2 separate regions of the Homo sapiens genome follow, and region 1 is linked to region 2. The links come from fine-mapping of genetic effects on gene expression. A gene starts in region 2. The other region holds a variant in brackets. All regions are shown on one strand. Distances are between the middles of the regions.

The links. PIP is the estimated chance that this variant, and not a neighbour inherited with it, causes the effect.
Region 1: its variant is fine-mapped to the expression of ATP13A1 in whole blood (TOPMed, PIP above 0.99).

What each region holds. Positions count from the first base shown.
Region 1 is chr19:19,642,012-19,644,809 of GRCh38, forward strand. GMIP (GEM interacting protein) reads right to left here and starts at 1,646. Exons shown (of 21, transcript NM_016573.4): 1 at 1,500-1,646; 2 at 524-608; 3 at 1-40. The coding sequence starts at 1,518. RefSeq lists enhancers at 523-1,478, 700-859 and a silencer at 1,490-1,739. The variant G/C (reference allele first, on the strand shown) is at 1,329.
Region 2 is chr19:19,661,939-19,664,736 of GRCh38, forward strand. It overlaps ATP13A1 (ATPase 13A1), which reads right to left and starts at 1,738. Exons shown (of 26, transcript NM_020410.3): 1 at 1,333-1,738. The coding sequence starts at 1,728. RefSeq lists enhancers at 1-204, 905-954, 1,086-2,068, 1,340-1,441, 1,785-2,074 and 1 more and silencers at 1,475-1,734, 2,175-2,224.

The sequences.
Region 1 (2,798 bases), 20 kb before region 2:
TTCTGAGAGTAGAGGGTCTCCAGCCAGCATCTCAAGGGTCCTGGGGGATAAAGGTGTGTCAGGATGCCACCTTACACCCAGTCTGTCCTGCCAAGGGGTGCTGGGGACCTTAGGGTTGTTTGTGGCAAACATCACCTCTGTGGCATCTCTTGTGTCTGGGAGGTCTGAAGAATGGTGTTTTGGGGGAATCAGGTGAGTTTTTTTTAAATAGGACTTGAAAAAGCATCTGAAGGGCCCCAGATAACTTTGAGGTTCATAGAGTGGGATTATAGGGATCGCAAATATTTTAAGGGGTTACAAGGATATGTAGGGGTTCTAGGACCACTTTGGGGATTTCCAGTCTATTTAGGGGGACACTTTTAGGATACCGAGGCATTTTGGAGGGTCCCATCCTAGACTTCTCTGGTTATTAGGTATGTAGGTCCAGATGTTACAGGTTCCAAATGGGACTGCAAGGCACCTAAATGGTTAGGGGCTTGGGGCATCTTGGCAGGATTTGGGGGTGATCCAGGCTCAGACTCACACGTTCCCCAGTGAGATTTCGAGGTTGTCCAGGCTCCGGAAGATGTCACTGTACCTCTTCCTGCCCTCAGGACCTGGGGGGAGTCCTAGGGGAGGGGAGTGTAATACATGGGCTAACCACTGCCTCCCTCCACCCACGGCACCTCAACCAGTCTCATTTGGAGGGGGTGGAAGAGAAAGGGAAGAGTGAGAGAGAGAAAGAGAGGGCTGGGGGGGGCTTGGTTGGGGCCAACTCGAGGCAGGCAGATGGACTCACACACCACCAGAGACCAGAGACAGCTGCTCGGGGAACAGAGACACCCACTCCCTGGGTCTGCCTGCACCCAGAAGCAAACCAACAAAACAGATGCCCCAGATGCAACCAGGCTGTCCCGAGAAGAAAGCCGGTCTGACAATGGAACCACGGGCTAGACAGATGGAAATACACAAGGGACAGCCAGGCAGAGCCTGGGGCAGAAACACACATGGAGAGACTGAAGCCGTGAGGGACATAAAGACCGAATGACACTCCACATACACAACACAGACACAAAGACGGCCGGAAACACCAAGTCGGACCCCGCCACATTTCTACTGCTGCCCCCCTGCCCCCTCTCCTAAGGGGCCTAGACCAGCACTGCCGACTCCCCAGGGCTACAGAGGGGCCCTGTGGGGATCCTACCGCGTTGCCCTCTCCCTCAGCAGTCGTGGCACCCTGCCCCCATCACAAAAATCAGAAGCAGAAGCAGTCACTTCCCCTTCCTGGGCCCCCTCCCCCAGGCGTCTGGGGTGAGGGATCAAAAGGGGGAGGGGGAGTGAAGGGCTGG[G/C]GTCCTGAACCCATCCGGGCACAGGGCTCCCCACAATGGAGGATCCCTGGGTCCTTCCCATTCAGGAACTCCTCTCCTGGCTCTCAGGACGGAGCGGGACAAGTGTGTGCCCTCAATGTAGGAAGCAGGGGATGGTCGGGGGAGGCCCCTCCCGGATCCCCGACCCCCTACCCGGCTCTGCTGCGTCCATATCTGGGCCCGGGGATCGCTCTGCAGGGACCGGGATGGGGATGGGGTCGCGCGCCGGCGGGGCCGAGCCCCGATTTCCTGCCGCCGCAGCCGCCGCCGCCGCCTCGGTTCCGCGTCGCCCTGCCCAGCGGAGGCCACGCCCCCGCATCAGACCACGCCCCCGTAGCCCGGAAGCCTTGATAGTGCCCTTCTCTACCTGAGCCGCTTGAAACTGGGTCGGGCCAGGGCCCCCTGAGCGACCACTCGAGGCTGCAGTGCCCCTGACCTGGGCATCCTAAGACTTCATCTGGGCCATAGGTTCCCTCTCAGATCTTTGTGCTACCCCAAATCCCACGGAGCCCCAGCCCCCTCCTCCCTGAATGGTTGCAGAGTCCACCTGTCCCGGGGGGCCTCTCCCAGGAGCTCCCACAACCCGCGACCCTGGTGATCCCCTTGCCCAGGTTGTCTCTCGGAGCCCTGAAACCACCTGGGCCTCGCTGGAGCCATGGCGCCCCCTGGTGGAGGCCTGATATTCTGTCCGATTCCAACCAAAATTCTAATACTCGGGCTGGAGAACCCCTGGCCTGGGGGACGCCCCTTCCGTGACCCTCAAAGCTGGATCAGGCTCAAGGCCCCAATTACAGCACACCAGGGAGCAGCCCTTTTAGGTAGGGAGTGGAGGTTTGTCCAAAAGCACCAGCTCTGGGGTTGCCACAAGCCGCCTGTTATAAAAATGCTCCCACCCCCAGCACAGTGGAATTTTGGGGCTGGAAATAGACTTTAAAGTATGTTTATAACTTTGTGTCCAAAGGCTTTGGCTGTTAAGGAGGCAAGGATTCTCTGACTGGCTCCGTGCTGCCTACTCTGCAGTTCTTGAGTTGTGATGAGTGAGTCCATTGAAAGGAATAACACTATCAACCTAAGAGCCAAGCCAGGTTTCCAGGTCACATCCTGGCTGATGCTCAGCCAGAGCTCCCTGACTGTGACATGAGATGGTAGAGCAGCGCAGGCCCCCAAAGAGCATGACAGAGTCAGTACTTGTTTGTTTTTCTTTTGAGTTGGAGTCTCGCTCTGTTGCCCAGGCTGGAGTGCAGTGGCGTTATCTCGGCTCACTGCAAGCTCCACCTCCTGGGTTCACGCCATTCTCCTGCCTCAGCCTCCCGAGTAACTGGGACTACAGGCACTCGCCACCATGCCTGGCTAATTTTTTGTATTTTTAGTAGAGATGGGGTTTCACTGTGTTAGCCAGGATGGTCTCGATCTCCTGACCTTGTGATGGGCCCGCCTTGGCCTCCCAAAGTG
Region 2 (2,798 bases):
CTGCAGATATCATCTCCGCTTCTCAAGATGGCACCCAGTAGTTGTTAGTTACGGTTCTCAGTTTACAGAAGGGGGAAACTGAAACTCAGAGAGCAGAAGCGGCCCTTTCTGAGATCTGAATCAAACCCAGATCCACCTCTCCTGGCTGATGGCTGTTCAGCTCCTCCCACTTCTCCATCCCTGGAGAGGAAGTTAAGAGCTAAGCTGCTTAGCTGCAGGTCAAAAGGCAGCTGAAGTTTGAGCGGTGCCACAGTCCCCTTAACCCCTCCTTTATTTTGTCCCTCATTGGTGTCTTTCATTGTACTACCTCAAAGCTACCACGTTGAGCTCCTCCCCTGGGATAGATAAGTCTTTTTGAAGGACAGAACAGGTTGTCTCTCAGGAGAGGAGAATGAGGATTCTACCCACATTCAGAGCCAGCCAGGGTGGGGGGCTTCTGTCTTTCTGTAGCCCTTGATGCTGTTCCCTTTTCCTCTTCTTGAGGCAAACACACTCCTGGAATCAGAGGGGAAGCTTCCTGATATACCTCAGTGTCCATGGCTCCAAACCTGCTGGTGTCACCTGAGGCAGGCCCAGAGAGAGACGACACAGTCACTGCTTCAGGCCCAGGGAAGCTCACAGTCACCAACTCCTCCGACGACACTTGGTCACTCAGAACTCTAAACTGTGGGTCAGGAGCGCGACCTTGCTTGCTGTTGTATCCCCGACAGAACTCAGTATCACCACCCTCATTTTGCGGAAAGACATCATGTAAATGACTCGCTCATAAACACCTCTGCCTCTCTTCAACACTGTAATTAACTGCATTTCATGCTCCTTTCCATCACAGTATGGAAGACCACTAAGCACTGGACAGCAAGACTTGGTTCAGTCTAAGAACCAACTAAGCTTCATAGATGGGGGAAACCTATCCCAGTGATCTCGCCTTACACTTTGAAAACCAAGGTAGGAGACAGATGAGATGGAAGGTAGGGCCGTTTCCAGAACAAGAGTAGTCGCTAATATGGGAACTAGTATAAACAACTCCTACCTGACCTGGGCGACGTATGCTGGGCCCTGCGCTAAGCCTTTTACAAGTATTACATCACTGAATCTAAATGACCATAACAGGGAGGACTTCAGAAAAAGGAAATAACCCGCACCAGGCATGCACAGCAAGTCAGCAGTGGGGTCATGATTAAGCCTGCGCCAAAGTGTAGAGGGTGCCCCTGGGAATCCAGGCCAGGCAGATGAGTGGCCCAGGTCGCGATGGTGACCGACAGGAAGGCCGCAGCTGGGACCCACGGCGAGGCTCGACCGTGCTGGGGGTCGGGCTCGCGTGTACACACTTACCGGGGTGCAGGTGAGCGCGCAATGCGCGTGCACAGACCAATGCCCCGAGAGGACAGTGAGCGCGTGCGCGAGGCAGATGGTGGCAAGCACGAGCAGCGCAGCTTCGGGGATCTGCACCCAACTGCTGCCCCAGCCCCAGCAGCCAGCGGCTGCGGCACCCAACCAGGCCGGGTAAAGCAGCCCGGCGAATGGCAGCACCGTGAGGCGCCGCAACAGCGCCAACCGCCGGTACGGCCACACGGCAGCCACCAGCTCGTCACCGTTCGCTATGAGCGCCGGCCCGGCGGCAAGGAGCGCGCGCGGCTGCGGCCCGGGCTTGGGCTGCCCGTCAGGCCGGACCCCGCAAGGCCGGGCCCCGCAGGGCACCGCGTTGCCCACCGCCGCCGCTGCCGCCATCTTTCCTAGCGCCGCGCTCACTTCCGGGCAGAGGAACGCCTCACTTCCGAAGTTTTACTTCCGGTAAGCCCTGAGCGCCGCCATGGCAGCCTGGACTAGGAAGAGCCAGGGCAACAGAACAGGCTGGCCCCGGCAGGGACTACTTCGGGTGCCGCCATGACAGGCTGTGGCCGGAAGAAGAGGCTGGGCGTCGCCATGACAGAGAGGGACTGGAAGACCTAACGGTGCCTGCCTCCGCTGCCACGCCGGACTGAGACCGGAAAAGACAAGGCCGGCAAGGCGGGCTTGGGCGCCACCATGACAACCTGAACCAAAAAAAGCGAGCCCTCCTCCTTGACTACACCAGCACCACCTGTCACCAGGGGCGAAGCCTGGACCCTGCGGAGGCGGGGTCGGGAGCTTCGGAGTTCAGGAGGCGGGGCCCGGTGCGGGGGGCGGGGCTTGTGAGGGGCGGGGTCGGGGACCGCCCCGGAACACAACCACACCGGACAAGAGCCTTAATGTGATAGATAAGAATTACAAATACTAGCCGGGCGCGGTGGCTCACGCCTGTAATCCCAACACTTTGGGAGGCGAGGCGGGTGGATCACCTGAGATCAGGAGTTCAAGACCCAACATGGTGAAACCACGTCTCTACTAAAAATACAAAAATTAGCCGGGCGTGGTGGCACATGCCTGTAATCCCAGCTACTCGGGAGGATGAGGCAGGAGAATTGCTTGAGCCCGGGAGACGGAGGTTGCAGTGAGCCAAGATTGCTCCACTGCACTTCAGCCTGGCCAACAGAGCAAGACTGTCTCAAAAAAAAAAAAAAGAAAAATGAATTACAAAAACCACTTTAGGCCGGGCGCGGTGGCTCACGCCTGTAATCCCAGCACTTTGGGAGGCCGAGGTCAGGAGATCGAGACCATCCTGGCTAACGCGGTGAAACCCCGTCTCCACTAAAAATACAAAAAAAAAAAAAAAATTCTCCGGGCGTGGTGGCGGGCGCCTGTAGTCCCAGCTACTCCGGAGCCTGAGGCAGAATGGCGCGAACTGGAGAGGCAGAGCTTGCAGTGAGCGGAGATTGTGC